Linked DNA regions of Homo sapiens: region 1 is linked to region 2. Evidence: fine-mapped expression QTL. A gene starts in region 2. The other region holds a variant in brackets. All regions are shown on one strand. Distances are between the middles of the regions.

The links.
Region 1: its variant is fine-mapped to the expression of C19orf18 in putamen (GTEx, PIP 0.99).

What each region holds. Positions count from the first base shown.
Region 1 is chr19:58,017,394-58,025,761 of GRCh38, forward strand. It overlaps the pseudogene VN2R19P. Among named protein-coding and RNA genes, the nearest start is that of ZSCAN1, 12 kb to the right of the region's middle. The variant T/C (reference allele first, on the strand shown) is at 3,995.
Region 2 is chr19:57,970,495-57,978,862 of GRCh38, forward strand. It overlaps C19orf18 (chromosome 19 open reading frame 18), which reads right to left and starts at 4,040. Exons shown (of 6, transcript NM_152474.5): 1 at 3,818-4,040; 2 at 3,605-3,709; 3 at 1,969-2,010. The coding sequence starts at 3,938. ZNF606 (zinc finger protein 606) reads right to left here. Exons shown (of 7, transcript NM_001348022.3): 7 at 6,582-8,368. The coding sequence ends at 7,807.

The DNA.
Region 1 (8,368 bases), 47 kb after region 2:
CCCAGGGCCTGTGCAAAATGCATCAGGTCCTCAGCCACCGTGGTGAGCAGGGGCTGCCTCAGGCAGGGCCAACGTATCCATGAGGCACGGGAGACCCAGGGCTGTGATATTTGCAGGGTCCCATGAAAATGTTCTAATGTTAACTGCTTGTAAAAGCAAAGAAAAAAATTAAAAAGTAATTAATGGGCCATGCACGGTGGCTCAAGCCTGTGGTCCCAGCACTTTGGGAGGCCGAGGCAGGCAGATCACGAGGTCAGGAGCTCAAGACCAGCCTGACCAATATGGTGAAATGCCGTCCCTACCAAAAATACAAAAATTAGCCAGGCGTGGTGGCTCACGCCTGTAATCCCAGCCACTCAGGAAGCTGAGGCAGAAGAGTCACTTGAACCCGGGAGACGGAGGTTGCAGTGAGCCAAGATCATGCCACTACGCTCCAGCCTGGGCGACAGAGCAAGACTCTGTCTCAAAAAAAAGTAATAATGAACATATAATAATGAGTCCAACCCAGGATATATTCATCTTTAGACCAAGGCAATGGTAAAATTGAATTAAGAATTTTTTTTTCCACGGAGGAAGGAACGCACAAAAGCCACAGTGTGGCCCCTGCTCCAGGGATTCCGTCTGAGCAAACACTTCCTCCTTGGCCTTCCCATCACACTCCAAGTGGAGTAAAATCCTGGCGGGACCTACACAGGTCAGTCCCTGAACACCTAGACATCCTGATCCCTCAGTCACAAACCTAGCATGGACTTAAGACCCCTCATCCTGGCCAGGCATGGTAGCTTATGCCTGTGATCCCAACACTTACCCCAAAGTGGACAGATCGCTTGAGCCCAGAAGTTTGAGACCAGCCTGGGCATCATGGTGAAAATACAAAAATTAGCTGGGCGTGGTGGTGCATGCTTGTAGTCCCAGCTACTCGGGAGGCTGAAGGATCGCTTGAGCCCAGGAGGTTGAGACTGCAGTGAGCTGTGAATGCATCACTGTATTCCAGCTTGAACAACAAAGCAAGGCACTGTCTTAACACAAAACAAAACAAAAAATTCCTCAGCCCGGCACGGTGGCTCATGCCTGTAATCCTAGCACTTTGGGAGGCCAAGGTGGGCAAATCATCTGAGGTCAGGAATTCAAAACCAGCCTGACCAACATGGTGAAACCCCATCTCTACTAAAAATACAAAATTAGCCAGGCGTGATGGCACATGCCTATAATCCCAGCTACTCAGAAGGCTGAGGCAGAAGAATTGCTTGAACCCAGGAGGCAGAGGTTGCAGTTAGCTGAGATCACACCATTGCACTCCAGCCTGGACAGAGCGAAACTCCGTCTCAAAAAAAAAAAAATCTTCGTCCAGTGCTCCTGCTAAGATGTGGCTTAGGGCTGTGAATACAAGATATCCTCACTGAGGAGCACTGCCCCTGTCCTCCCCACCAGGAGACCAAGTGAGTTTCCTGCTGTCTCCCCTTCCCTGAATCATCTACTCCACAGTTTGTTTTTGAGACAAGGTCTTACTCTGTTGCCCAGGCTGGAGTGCAGTGGCACCATCATGGCTTGCTGTAGCTTCAACCTCCTGGGCTCAAGCGATCCTCACACCTGAGCCTTCCAAGTAGTTGTGACTAGAGGCGTGCACCATCACGACTTTTTTTTTTTTAAAGATAGTCTCGCTCTGTCACCCAGGCTGGAGTGCAGTGGTGTAATCTCGGCTCACTGCAAGCTCTGCCCTCCCAGGTTGAAGGAATTCTCCTACCTCAGCCTCCTGAGTAGCTGGGACTACAGGCGCCCACCATCACGCCTGGCTAATTTTTTGTATTTTTAGCAGAGATGGGGTTTCACTGTGTTAGCCAGGATGGTCTCGAGATCTCCTGACCTCGTAATCCACCTGCCTCTGCCTCCCAAAATGTGGGGGTTACAGGCGTGAGCCACTGTGCCCAGCCCATGCTTGGCTGATTTAAAAATTTTTTTGTAGATTCAGTGTCTTACTGTGTTTCCCTGGCTGATCTTGAACTCCTGGGCTCGAATGATCCTCCCACATTGGTCTCCCAAAGTACTGGGACTACAGGCGTGAGCCACCATGCTCAGCCCCACTCCACACGTTCGCCTCTCACCAGCCAGGGCTGGAAGTCCCAGGCATCGGCACACCCCTGGTCCCCATGCTTGCAGCCTGCCAGGGCCTGGGCGATGGCATAGACCACTGTGTAGGCGATGTGTACTTTGCTTTCCTTCTGGAAAGGGTAGTGCTCAACCCTCAGACTCTCATTTCCTGAGCAGAACTGGACTCCTGCAGCCGCTGTGCTTTTCCCTGCTGGCCCCCAGCTGCTATGGGGCTATGTGCACTTGAAGGTGACCTCCCAGAATCTCCATATGAACATGTCTTCTGGGGTCCTGGCAAGGCGCAGGGAAGTCGGGGGGCTGGCTGTTGCAAAGCAGGAGGCTGAATGAGCCCTGCAGAACCCAGAAGGCACTGGCACAGTCAGGACCAGCGCCATGTGCAGAGTGTCCCAGCTGACACAGACCTGGCCCAGGATGCCTCGGCCTGCCAGGCACTGCAGGATGAGTCTGAAGTGCTAGCTGTTAAGGAAAACCAGGATGATGGTGGCCGTACAGTTCTCCATCAGCCAGATGATGTTTTTCATCTTCAGGGACTCCCGGGTGGGGATGCAGAGTTGGAATTCAATGCAGACCCCAGCCTGGCCCAGCTCCTGGACGACCAGAGACCTGCCCTGCAGCTCAAAGTCGTCCCCCTGCGCCAGGACGCTCACCCAAGACCATCGGAAGTGAAGCATCAGCTGCACCACTGCATGGGTGGTCGTGAGGTGACTGAGCAGGGTCTGAAAGAAGGATGGGAACTGGGTCCTGTCGCTGAGGCTGGCCAGTGTGGAGGAGGGGCTGACCTGTGCAGGAAGAGGCCAGGGCAATGGGGAGGGGTGAGGAGCAGCTCAGGCACCTGCTGACCACCAGGTTCAAAAGAAAGCCAGGTTGACCCACACGTCCCTGGTGGCCCTGGGTGTGTCCCCCAATTTTGTCACTGAAAGCTCACACCTATAATCACAGCACTGAGAGGCCAAGGCGGGCAGATCACTTGAGGTCAGGAGTTCAAGACCAGCCTGGCCAACAACATAGTGAAACCCCATCTCTACTAAAAATACAAAAATTAGCCAGGCATGATGGTGGGTGCCTGTAATCCCAGCTACTTGGTAGGCTGAGGCAGGAGAATCGCTTGAACCCTGGAGGCCGAGGTTGCAGCGAGCCGAAATCGCACCACTGCACCCTAGCCTGGGTGACAGAATGAGACTCCGTCTCAAAAAAAAAAAAAAATTCCCACATAAGTCTGGGCATGGTGGCTCACGTACATCCCAGGGCTTTGGGAGGCCAAGGTGGGAGGACTGCTAGAGCCCAGGAGGTCGAGACTAGCTTGGGCAACACAGTATGACCCCCTACTCTAAAGAGACACACACAGAAAGAGAGACACACACACAGAGAGAGAGAGAGAGAGACAGACACAGAGACACACAGAGGAAGAGACAGACAGAGACAGACAGAGACAGAGACAGAGAGACAGAGTCAGACAGAGAAACAGGAGGGAAGGCAGGCAGGAAGGGAAGAAGGGAGGGAGGGAGGGAGAGGAGGGAGGGAGGGAGGGAGGGATGGAGGAGGGGAGAGAGAGCGAGCCAAGCAGGCACAGAAAAAAAAAAAAAGGAGAAAAGGAAAGGAAGAAAGAAAAAGGCCAGATGTGGTGGCTCACACCTGTAATCCCAGCACCTTGGGAGGCAGAAGTGGGCAGATCACTTGAGGCCAGGCTGGTCTCAAACTCCTGACCTCACGTGATCGGCCTGCCTCAGCCTCCCAGAGTGCTGGGATTACAGTTGTAAGCCGCAGCACCCAGCCCCAAGGAATAATTGAACTTAATGTTCATTCCTCTCGTTTTGCCCACTTCAAACTTACGTTTCTGCTCCTTTGCCAAGCTGGGTTTTTGTTTGTTTTTTTTGAGACAGGGTTT[T/C]ACTGTCACCCAGGCTAGAGTGCAGTGGCAGGAACACAGCTCACTACATCCTCCACCTACTGGGCTCAAGAGATCTTCCTGCCTCAGGGGACTACAGATGTGCACCACCCACCACCCCCAGTTAAAAAAAATTATTTTGTAGAGATGGGGTCTATGTTTCCCAGCCTGGTCTTAAAATTCCTGGGCTCACGTGATCCTCCTGCCTCAGCAGGCCTGGGGATCCGATTCTAGTTCCGGTTTGCACAGCGCCGACAACTCTGGGGCTACAGGCTGGAGCCACCGTGCGGGGCCTGGGATTCGGACTCTAGTTCCGGTTTCCACAGCGTGGACAACTCTGGGGTTACAGGCTGGAGCCACCATGCCGGGCCTGGGGTTCGGATTCTAGTTACGGTTCACACAGCGCGGACGGACAGTTCTTCACTGGCAGTGGCAATGACTCGGAACCTACTTGTGTTGTTTGGCCACGCTGTGATCTTTGTCAGTTTTTGCCTGCTTGTCGATTTGCCAATGAAGAGACTACTCTTCGTGCCCCGGAAGATAAAGTTCTATGAAATCGGGGTCAACGAGGTTTTGTGTCTGTGTTTGCTTCTGACCTGTGGCTGAGGCACAGGATGAAACTGCTCGGTCTCTGGGGTCTGTTGGATCAGAGACTTTAACACGCTCCTCGTGTGGGTGCAAAACATTCTCCTACCGCCAGAGGGTAGTAAGGAAATAGGCTATGCAAAGGTTATGGGGTCTGAACGGAACGGTGCTCTGGTCTGATTGGTTTACACAGACCCATAAGGCTGACGCAACAGGTAGAGCTAACAGATTTGAAAATAAAAAAACAGGATACCCAATTAAGTTTAAATTTCAGATAAATTCATCTAATATTTTAGCATAAGTATGTCTTGTATGTCCTGTGCAATATTTGGGACCAAATTCTACTAAAAAGGACTATTCATTGTTTATCTGAAAACCAAATTTCACTGGGGGTACTGTTTTATCTGGCAACCCTACAGGTACAGGAAAACAGCTTCTTGAGCTGCAGTCAAGAAATGCAGTTGCAGCTGCACGCAGTGGCTCATGCCTGTAAACCCAACACTGGGAGGCTGAGGTGGATCACAAGCCCAGGAGTTGCAGGCCAGCCTGGGCAACACAGGGAGAGTTTTGTTTTGTTTTGTTTTGTTTTGTTTTAAAAAAGGCCAGGCGCAGTGTCTCACGCCTGTAATTCCAGCACTTTGGGAGGCTGAGGCGGGTGGATCACCTGAGGTCAGGAGTTTGAGACCAGACTGGGCAACATAGTGAAACCCCATCTCTACTAAAAATACAAAAATTAGCCGGTCATGGCGGCGGGCACCTGTGGTCCCAGCTACTTGGGAGGCTGAGACAGGAGAATTGCTTGAACCCAGGGGGCAGAGGTTGCAGTGAGCCGAGATCGCACCACCGCACTCCAGCCTGGGCGACAAGAGTCAGACTTCGTCTCAAAAAAATTCAAAAAGGAAAAAAAAAATTGAGTCTCTAATCCTTTAAATGTGCTTGAATTAAAAGGAAAGAAAAGAAAGTCTACATATAGAAACTTCTAGTTCAGAAGCATTTTATGTAAGAATCCAAGTGGGAAGTAATCAAGGTGAATTCTTGGAAAAAAATCAGCCTGGCTTGATACTTTGGGGTTAAAAGCACCTAGAATAGCTATGCGGTTATTTGCAGAGGTTCTATAGAAATCAACTCTCCTTTTTATCAGGATAGGACTGGACTAAATTGATCGTACGATCAAGCCCATACCTGAAGTGTCACACCTCAGAATAAACTCCCCAATACATGACAACCCACCCTGAAGGAGTAAGGGGTGAAGGGGTGAGCTTTCTTTGTGGCCCCAACATTCACACCGCCCCAGGAAAACCCTTCCAACCTGTTCTGTGATTTACAGGGCCCCCTGCTTCACAGGTAGGAAGGCAGGCCTCTCCCCCAGCAGGCCAGCAAACTTTGCAAATTTAAGGCGTTCAAGGGCAGAGGAATCCTGTAAACCCAAATTTACAGGTTTCTCAGTGGAACATGAATCTATTAAATTGGACTCGTCATACAATGCTGGTGGGAATGTAAAATGGTGCGCTGCTTTGGAAAACACTCCAGCAGCTCCTCAGATAGTTAATCATAGCATGAACATTTGGCCCAGAAATTCTACCCATACAACCAAGAGAATTGAAAACACACTGAACATACACACAAAAACGGATACATAAATGTTCATAGCAGCCCTATTCACAGTAGGCCCAAAATGGAAACAGTTCAAATATACATCAACTAATAAATGGATACACACGACATGCTCTATTCATACAACGGATTTTTAAGACAGGGTCTTGCACTGTTGCCCAAGCTGGATTATAGTGGTACGATTATAGCTCACTGCACCCTTGACCCACCCCCCCCGCCCCCCGACTCAAGTGATTCTCCTGCCTCAGCCTTCTGAGTACCCAGGACTACAGCTGCATGCCACTAATTTTTTTTTTTTTTTCCTGTAGAAATGGAGTCTCCCTATGTTGCCCAGGCTGGTCTTGACCTCTTGACATCAAGCAATCCTCCCACCTTGGCCTCCCACAGGGCCACTATACCCAGCCTATGATGGAAAATTAATCAATAGAAGGGAACGACGCTCTGACACAGGCTGCAACGTGGATGAACCTTGAAAATATATTTAGTGAGAAAAGCCAGTCACAAAGGACCACACAGCGTATGATTCCGTTTATAGGAAGTATCCAGAAAAAGCAAATCTGTACAGACAAAACATACATTAGTGGTTGCCGGCAGGTGGAGCTGATGGAAACTGCTGGCTAAAGGGGTTGGGGTTTCCTTGTGGGGTGATGAAAATGTTCTCAAATTGGCTGTGGGGATGGCTACACAACTCGAACATACCAAAAGCCATGAGTGAGTTACGCGGTATGTGGATTATATCTCAGGCCGGAGGACTGCTTGAGCCTAGCAAATCGAGGCTGCAGTGAGCCGTGATCATGCCACTGCACTCCAGCCTGAGCGACAGAGACCCCATCACTAAAAAAATTAAAATGCCCCAGCACAGTGGCTCACACCTGTGATCCCAGCACTTCGTGGGGCCGAGGTGGGCAGATCACCTAAGGACAGAAGTTCCAGACCATCCTGGCCAACGTGGGGAAACACCGTCTCTACTAAAAATACAAAAATTAGCCGGGAGGTGGTAGGGGGCGCCTGGAAACCCAGCTACTCGGGAGGCTGAGGCAGGAGAATCGCTTGAACCCGGGAGGCGGAGATTGCAGTGAGCTGAGATCGTGCCACTGCACTCCACCCTGGGAAACAGCAAGACTCCATCTCAATACACCCACATACATACATAAAATAAACAGAAAAAAAAAGTTGCCTCTAGACATAGCTACTATTATGGGAATGACACCCGAGGGCCTGAGAGTCAGGAGGCCCCAGCGGGGCGGGGCCGTGTGGAGGCTGGCGGCACAAGCCCTATGGCCTGGACTCAAAACCCAGCTTCAGCGCCCCAGTGCTGGGTGAGCTGCAACGTGTCACTGCTAGTTCCCTCAATCTCAGTGTCCTGGTGAATGCAGCAGCGATCACCATTCTCTTACAGAGAGGTCATGGTGAGGGGGAGGATGGCGTCAGGCTGTAGGGCATTGGCGGGGAGCCAGGACCCTCCGTGGTAGGGCCTCAGCGTCACCCCCATTGTGGCCAATACCACAGCAAATATTAGGGGAGGGTACGGCTCTGAGTACTTACCTGGAGAAACCTGTAGAGTCCCAGGAGCCTGGCCATTGGCATAGACAACGCCAAGCATGTTTCTCCAAAGCAGCTCCGAGAGCGCTGGGCCCAGACGTGTAGCTGGGGATGGGCTCCTCCTGCCCGGTGAGAAAGCTCATGGTCTCATGGAGTGCTGCGTGCACGAAGTCCCCCTGTGTCCAGAATTGGTTCCTTCCAGTGGGTTCTTGGTGTAGCTGACTTCAACAATGAAGCTGCGGACCCTCACGGCGAGTGTTACTACAGTTCTTATCTGGAGTTGTTCATTCCTCCCGTTGGATTCGTGGTCTTGCTGGCTTCAGAAGTGAAGCCACAGACCTTCGCAGTTAGTATAACAGCTCATAAAGGTAGTATAGACCCACAGAAAGAGCATCAGCAGGATTTATCGCAAACAGCAAAACAACAAACTTCCACAAACTGGAAGGAAAGCCCAACAGACTGCCACCGCCGGCTCGGGTGGCCTGCTTTTATTCCCTTATCTGGCCCCACCCACATCCTGCTGATTGGTCCATTTTACAGAGCACTGATTGGTCCGTTTTACAGAGAGCTGATTGGTCCGTTTTGATTGAGTGCTGATTGGTGCGTTTACAAACCTTTAGCTAGACACAGAGTGCT
Region 2 (8,368 bases):
ACTTAATCATATTTGTCGAACTTCATTATTTAAGCTTGGCAGTTTCAATGCACAATTCTTACTATGAGTAAGGTAGACATCTTTCCATATAATTTTTTTTTTTTTGTTACAGAGTCTCGCTCTGTTGCCAGGCTGGAGTGCAGTGGTGCGATCTCTGCTCACTTCAACCTCAGCCTCCCGGGTTCTCCTACCTCAGCCTCCCGAGTAGCTGGCCTCCACCATGCCCAGCTAATTTTTGTATTTTTAGTAGAGATGGGGTTTCACCATGTTGTCCAGGCTGGTCTCAAACTCCTGACCTCAGGTGATCTACCCACCTCAGCCCCCCAAAGTGTTGGGATTACAGGCATGAGCCTGTACTGCACCCGGACCATCAACTTTATTAGATAAACAATTTTGTCCCGTCTCTATCCTACCTACAACTGGGACCTGAAGCTCAGGGGTGGCAGAGGTCTCAGTGACCTTCTAGCACCAGCACACAAAACGAGCTAGTGTCAAAAGAAGGACCAGTGTGCAGGCCTTTGATACCCCAGCCAGGACTCAAGCTCTGTGCTTTGGTGATGGTGGTGTCAATGGGCAGGTGAAACAGTCATAGCTGAGCTTTAGGAAGATTGATAATGTGTTTGGCGTGGATGGATGTATTCATCACGTTTTTTATTTTCTGTATTTCCTGATACTTTGACATCTTGGGGCCTTAACTGACCCTTGAAGAGACTGCCCTCCCAGGTCCAGCCAATTCCTGAAGATAGTAAACCCTGGCCTGCAAGTGCACCTTTCATGTGCAAGCCGACACACCCAAAGCCTACACCCCAACAATCTCTATGGAGCCCTCATGCTCCAGGCCACCATCCCCTGCCCCCAACCACCCCAGGGCCAGGTCCCAGACAACCAGGGACATACCCCATGCCCCACAGCCACCAAATCACTCAAGCTGATCCCAAGCCCGCCTTCCCTACCTGCCTTCCTGTAAAAACCAGAATAAAGTTGTTTTTTTTAAAAAAGACAGCCTCGCTCTGTTGCCCAGGCTAGAGTGCAGCGACCCAATCTCAGCTCACTGCAACCTCCACCTCCCAGGTTCATGCGATTCTCCCGCCTCAGCCTCCCAAATAGCTGGGATTACAGGTGCCCACCACCACTCCTGGCTAATTTTTGTATTTTTAGTAGAGATGGGGTTTCACCATGTTAGCCAAGCTGGTCTCGAACTCGTGACCTCAAGTGATTCATCCACCTCGGCCTTCCTAAGTGCTGGGATTACAGGGATGAGCCACCGCACCCGGCCCAGAATAAAGGCTTTTGCTCACACTTTCCTGGCTCCCTTTGCCTTCTGATAGACCCTGGTGCTTCCTTGTGTGGACTCCTGCTTCTAGGGACCCGTGAGTATCAGGCTTCTTCCTTCATGACAGTCATTTCTGTGTCTGCATGTCTCACTCAGCATATGTGATTAAATAAAATGCTGGCTACATGTGAAAGCAGTGGAGATGGGTAGGTGGTGGGGGAGCTGACTCAGAAGCCGCCCTGTTGCAGGCACTTAGCAAATGTGCAGAGGAGAAGGAAGGATGCTCTGGGGCGGGAGCAGCAGCAGGACACAAGGTGCCTTCTGCTTTGGAGGACTCTGAAGCGAGAGGTGTTGAGGAGGTTCCAGGACAAGCCACAGTGGGGAGAGTTGCTAGAAAGGCTGCTGACAGGGCCGCTGTGTGTGCCCATGCATTTTGTGTGTTCCACAAAGAGATCTCAGACACAGCCTGTGCTCTACTCACTACAACATCAGCCCGTGGAGTTGAGCCACCTTCTCACCTGCCCCAAGCGGTGTCACTGCGCATCCCCCTCCAGAGGGGGCACCTTGTCTAACACACATGAAGGCACCACGTGTGCAGGCTCCTTGGTGACCAGCCAGCACCCTCTGGAGCCACACATCACGACAGCTTCAGGAATGTTGCGGGTCCACCCGCCCTCCCAGATCCCTTGGCTTACCTTTATTCCTCAGGAATTTCATGGGGTTCGTAGGGGATGCAGCTAAAAGGCCATCAAAGGGGATCAAAAAGAAGAGACTTTAAGATGGTTTAAGATGAACTTGGGAAAACAAGGAAATAACTTAGCATTAGAGAAGGACGCCGAACACACAGCTTCCAAATATCTAAGATGGGATGTGTTAATACATTCCTCCCAATGCCTGGCAGCAATGTGTGGGTTAATTTGCAGAAGCCTGGTGAGCCTGCTGTTCTTTTTGCACCTGGTGCTTCCTGTCATGAAGAATGACCTTTAGGAACAGGATACTTTTGGTTTCTGGTCTCCTTTTGCAGTCATACAAGTTGGGAAATCTCTGCCCAAATTAAGGACCTGGAGAGACTTAGAGTTGAAGGGGCTACGACCTCATTAGAAGGTCAGCAAGGGTTGGGCACAGTGGCTCATGCCTGTAATCCCAGCGAGGAAGGCAGATCACGAGGTCAGGAGTTCGAGACCAGCCTGACCAACATGGTGAAACCCCGTCTCTACTGAAAATACAAAAATTAGCTGGGCATGGTGGCACGCGCCTGTAGTCCCAGCTACTCAGGAGGCTGAGGCAGGAGAATTGCTTGAACCCGGCGGTGGAGGTTGTGGTGAGCCGAGATTGCGCCACTGCACTCCAGCTGGGTGACAGAGTGAGACTCCGTCTCAAAAAAAAAAAAAAAAAAAAAAAAAAAAAAAAAAAAAAAAGGATCAGAGAGCCAGGCAGAGAGGCCAGGGAACCAACAATAGTGTCCTTTCCTCGGACACAAATTACATGCAAATGTATCACACAGACAGCATTTCCCTTGCATGGAATGGAGATTATTTACAAGCATCATATATCTCCACAAAGGGTTGCTGAGCTTCAAAGATTGTCGGGGTTGGTTTTGCTGTTATAAGATAAACAAACATCCTCTAGTACTCAAATTAGAAGGGAACCATAGAAAATGCTTATAAAGAATTCTCGGCTGGGCATGGTGGCTCATGCCTGTAATCCCAGCACTTTGAGAGGCCGAGGCGGGCGGATCATGAGGTCAGGAGATCAAGACCATCCTGGCTAACACAGTGAAACCCTGTCTCTACTAAAAATACAAAAAATTAGCTTGGCGTGGTGGCGGGTGCCTGTAGTCCCAGCTACTTGGGAGGCTGAGGCAGGAGAATGGTGTGAACCCAGGAGGTGGAGCTTGCAGTGAGCCGAGATCGCGCCACTGCACTCCAGCCTGGGCGACAGAGCAAGACTCTGTCTCAAAAAAAAAAAAAAGAAAAAAAAGAATTCTGTACACTCACAAACCTTCTGTGTCTAGACTTGCATGCTCTACTGCCAAATGTGCACCAAATTCAAGTCAGACAGGCATACCTGTGTAATCTGGATGGGATCAAGGTTTTTGTGTGCGCTTATTAAAGTGAAATGAAAAAGAGAAGAAAGTGGCAATCCCTAAAGAGAAAGCAGTTAACAGAGAGTGAAGAGCATAAGATCTAATTTCCAAGCAAATGTTTATCTAATTATACTCTATTTTATGGACCTTTCTACCAGCAAGCACACAGTACACATTCACATGGCAGATAAGAGGACTCCAGGCTACGATTCTCACTCCACTGAATGAGGAATTCAATGACTCACCCGTGGATCTCGAGGCAGCCCCTTGAATCCCAGGCAACTGGGTTTTATGAAAGAACACTTTGGGCTCTTTGGTGATGTTTCTGGGTGGTTGTGACCGTTTACTGCCTTGAAAAGAAAACTTTTTGCGGTGAAATGTAATTACCTTCTTTTTATCTCCCCTGAAACAGCTTTTCAATTCTCCCTGAGTCACATAAAACCAGTGGTTGAAGCTACCTGGTAAGCCTGTTATGTTTCCAGTGGGATGGAGTCCATCTGCATACGGCAAGCATAAATGAAGTTGGCATTCCATTAAAAACAAAAACAAAATGAGGAAACCACTCTGAACCTTGTCCATCACTCTCAAATTATCAGTATTTTATCCCGTAGATGAAAGGAAATACTTAGCTACAGTCCAGCATCTGTCCTCTATTTATCTGAGGAATCAAGAAGTTCTACTCCCTTCAGAATGTTTGGGCAGTGACTTGGAGCCACCAGTGTGAGGTCAGTCCTTGCTGTGATAATGGAGTTCCTTCATGGAACCATGCTGACCAATGGGGAGACTACAGTGTAAGAGGGCAGTGCTTGGAGGTGCAGGCATGATGAGACCAGGTCCCTGCCTGCAGTGTGCAGATTAGTGAGGAGGCAGAAAGAAATCAATTACAGTCAGCCCTCCGCATGCATAGTTCCCCATCCGTGATTTCCAACAACCTCACTTGGAAAATGTTCAGGAAAAAAGGAATGGGCACGGTGGCTCACGCCTATGATCCCAACACTTTAGGAGGTCAAGGTGGGCAGATCGCTTGAGGCCAGGAGTTCAAGACCAGCCTGGCCAACACAGTGAAAGCCCATCTCTACTAAAAATACAAAAATTTGCTGGGCGTGGTGGTGCACACCTGTAGTTCAAGCTACTTGGGAGGCTGAGGCATGAGAATCACTTGAACCCAGGAGGTGGAGGTTGCAGTGAGCTGAGATCATGCCACTGCACTCCAGCCTGGGCGACAGAGCAAGACTCTGTCTCAAAAAAATAAAACAACAAACACAAAAACAAAAACTAGCCAGGCATGGTGGCGTGTACCTGTAGTCCCAGATACTCGGGAGGCTGAGGCAGGAAGATCACTTGAGCCCAGAAGGCAGAGGTAGCAGTGAGCCAAAATCGTACCACTGCACAAAGAAAGAAAGAAAAGAAAGTGGAAGGAAAGCAGTCACCCTTAGAAGGGAGGCAATGTGCACAGGGGAGACCCACAGCAGGAAGGTAAAGGGGGACTCCTGATGACTGAAAGTGGGCCCTAGGCTTCAGAGATGGGAGGAATAGAAGACGGGCTCAAAAAAGGCAATGAACTATGTCATGTATGAGGGAGACAGAGGGGACCTGGGAGTGCTGGATGTTAGGGACCACTGAAATCAATACTGTCCAGGCTGTGCATGATAGGTGAGAGGAAGGGAATACTTCCAGGAAGAAGCAGAAGTCTGGGACTTTCTTTTGACTCGTGATGTGACCTGACCAACAGGAGGCCCTTTTTTTTTTTTTTTTTTTTTTTTGAGATGGAGTCTTGCCCTGTCACCCACACTGGAGTGCAGTGGCACAATCTTGGCTCACTGCAACCTCCACCTCCTGGGTTCAAACGATTCTCCTGCCTCAGCCTCTGGAACCGCTGGGATTACAGGCATCTGCCACCACACCCAGCTAATTTTTGTATTTTTAGTAGAGATGGGCTTTCACCATGTTGGCGGCCAGGCCAGTCTCGAACTCCTGATCTCATGATTCACCCACCTTGGCCTCCCAAAGTGCTGGGGTGACAGGAGTGAGCCACTGTGCCCTGCCAGGAGGCCCTTTAAGACATTAAAAAAACTCTTATCTGTTTAAACAGAGATGGGATCTTGCTACGTTGCAAGGCTGGCCTTGAACTCCTCAGCTCAAGCAATCCTCCTGTCCCTCCCAAAATGCTGGCATGAGCCTCGGTGCCCGGCCTAGAAATTTTTTCAAGATAATAATCTTAGTAATAAGGTTATAAGTTACCAGGATGCTTGTGGTATATTGCATATGACTTATGAAATCCTTTGGAATCTCTAAATCAGATAATTTGGATTCACTCTGGCTATTAGAATACAATATCCACATCCTACTGGTAGTATGATTCTGGATATATTATGCTGCTTTCTCCAAGATGAGATAATACTGCTAACTTCATTCTCTCCAAGGGCCTTTGCACAAATCATGTAAAAAAAAAATCCATCAATAACTAACTTGCCCCTGCCACATTTATCAGGTGACCACTAATGTGTCAGGCCTTGAAAGGACTACAATCAAATGTTACACACCTAAGTGAGCCCAAGCTAGAAGAGTCAGAAGGTGAAAATAACAGCCTCCCAATGACATCACTAGGCCATCATTTCTCAACCACTGGGAAGCCATGGGCCCTTTAAAAATTAGATGAGCTTTATGAGCCCAAGTTCCACTCAATACCCTTGAAGCCTATCCAGGAAGGATCCTTGGCCCCCAGTTTTAGAAATACTTATGAACTGGAGAGAAGCCACCCAAGTCTTCTGATCCATCTTTCCCCTTTTCCCCTGTGAACACTGAGACTTCATTACTCTAGGTGGACTGGCTAGCTCTCTTCCCTTCTGAATCCTGCTCCTTCAAGTAAGCCTTTCATCTGCAGAAGATTTCAAAAAAATAAAAGACCGAATTCAAGGTAAACCTTGGGTAATGGTGCTCTGAAGTGCAGTGGTGTCTAGTTATGGAAAGGAACAAACACCCCTGCCCTCTGCTCTGTAAGTGGCATTCTAAACCCACCAAGGGACTTGCCCAGTCCTCCAGCAAGTCCTCCAGGCCCTGCTGCCCTGTTATCCTTGGGGTTGCAGGCAGCAAAGTTCTAGGGAACTCAGGTCCCAGAAAATGCAGTGATTCTGAATGTCCAACACAGACTTCATATTCCAAAGGGATACTAGTTCTCATGTTACTATAAATCCTTCGAGACAGAGAAACCAGGTAACTTTATTTCTCATTGTTTAGGATTTTCTTTTTATTATCAAATCTCTGCTATAGAAACACTGAAGAAAATGGGAAAAAAAATCACTGGAGAGGCAGCATAAAATGGTGGCTGAAAACAAGAACTCTGGAGCCAATCTCAGCTCTACTCCCTTACTAGTTGTGCCCCTTAGGTAGGATCCTTCAACATCTCTGCTTCAGCTTAGCCATTTGTAAAACTGGGGTAACAGTACCTATCTCAGAGTAAAGGGGACTAAACAAGTTAACACTTGGAAAGCATTTAAAAGAAAGCCCAGCACATAAGTGTTATATGTATTTGTAAAACTTTTTAAAAATCTCAACTGGGTTAACTTTTCCATGGATCTTTCAGGTCCTTACCCATATACATTTTTTTAGATGTGTTACAGTAAGTATGTATATACAATTCTGTATCCTTTTTATTCCTTCATGTTATGTATACTGATGCAGTGTCCATAATTATAATTTATAGTGATTGCCTAAAACAAATTACAAACTAATTGCCCAACAATGCAGTGATGAGTAACAATGGACGCTGACACACTGGGCTAAGGATCACTTTCTGTCCAGCAACATCAGTCTCACACTCCTAGGCAATAACTTTTCTACCGTTAGTCATCTCATTCATTAATTTTCTCTAAGGAGGTTAATCAACAGTAAATACCCCATTCAATACTATTATTTTTCTTACATTCAGATTTAGCACTTCATATTCTACTCCTGGGCACCCAGACCCTCCCCTTATAACAACAAAATCTGTATTTCTACAATTATGCACAAAATGTTATTGTAGAGTTTTCCATCCAGTACTCCAGCTTGATGCAAAACAGTGTATTTCCAGTCAAAAACTTTTCTCTGCATAAGGTTTTTCCCTTAGCAATTCACACCAATCTACAATTGGTGAGAGCTCTTGCTAAAAGATGCCTCATTCCCCACAGTCATGGTCCTCAAGTATGAATTACTGGTAGACCATAAGGGGAGTTTAGAGTTTCCTTCATTGTTAATTATCTGATTTTGAGTAAGGGCTAAATAACTGCTGAAAGCTTTTCCCTATTCTTTTCCTTCATGGGGTTTCTTCTAAGATGATATTTTCTAGTAAATAATGTGGGAGAAGTCTTACTGAACTCTTAATGAAAAATGTCCCCTCTTGATTATGTTTATAGGGTTTTCCTCAATGTGTTGTCAAATGTACAAGAAACGAAAAACTCGCATAAATTCAATTCAGTTTCTCTTCACTGTGATTTCTCTGGTGTTGAAGTAGGGCTGAGTGACCACTAAAGGCTTTTCCACATTCACTGCATATAAAGCGTTTCTCTCCACTATGCATTCTCTGATGAATAATAAGGGAAGAATTCTTACAAAATGCTTTTTCACAATGATTACATTTGTAGGGCTTTTCTCCAGTATGGTTTCTTAGGTGTACAATAAGGGATGAACTCTCATTAAATGCTTTCCCACATTCATTACACCTGTATGGTTTCTCTCCAGTATGAGTTCTCCGGTGTGCAATGAGGTGAGAACTACAGTTAAAGGATCTTTCACACTGATTACATTTATAGGGTTTCTCACCAGTGTGAATTCTCCGATGAGCAACAAGGTGACAGCTCTGACTGAAGGATTTTCCACATTTATTGCATTCATAGGGTTTTTCTCCAGTATGAGTCCTTTGATGTCTAACAAGGTGAGCCATCTGGCTACAGGATTTTCCACATTTATTACATTCATAGGGCTTAATTCCAGAATGAATTATCTCATGTTTAGTGAGGGCTGAGCGTTCT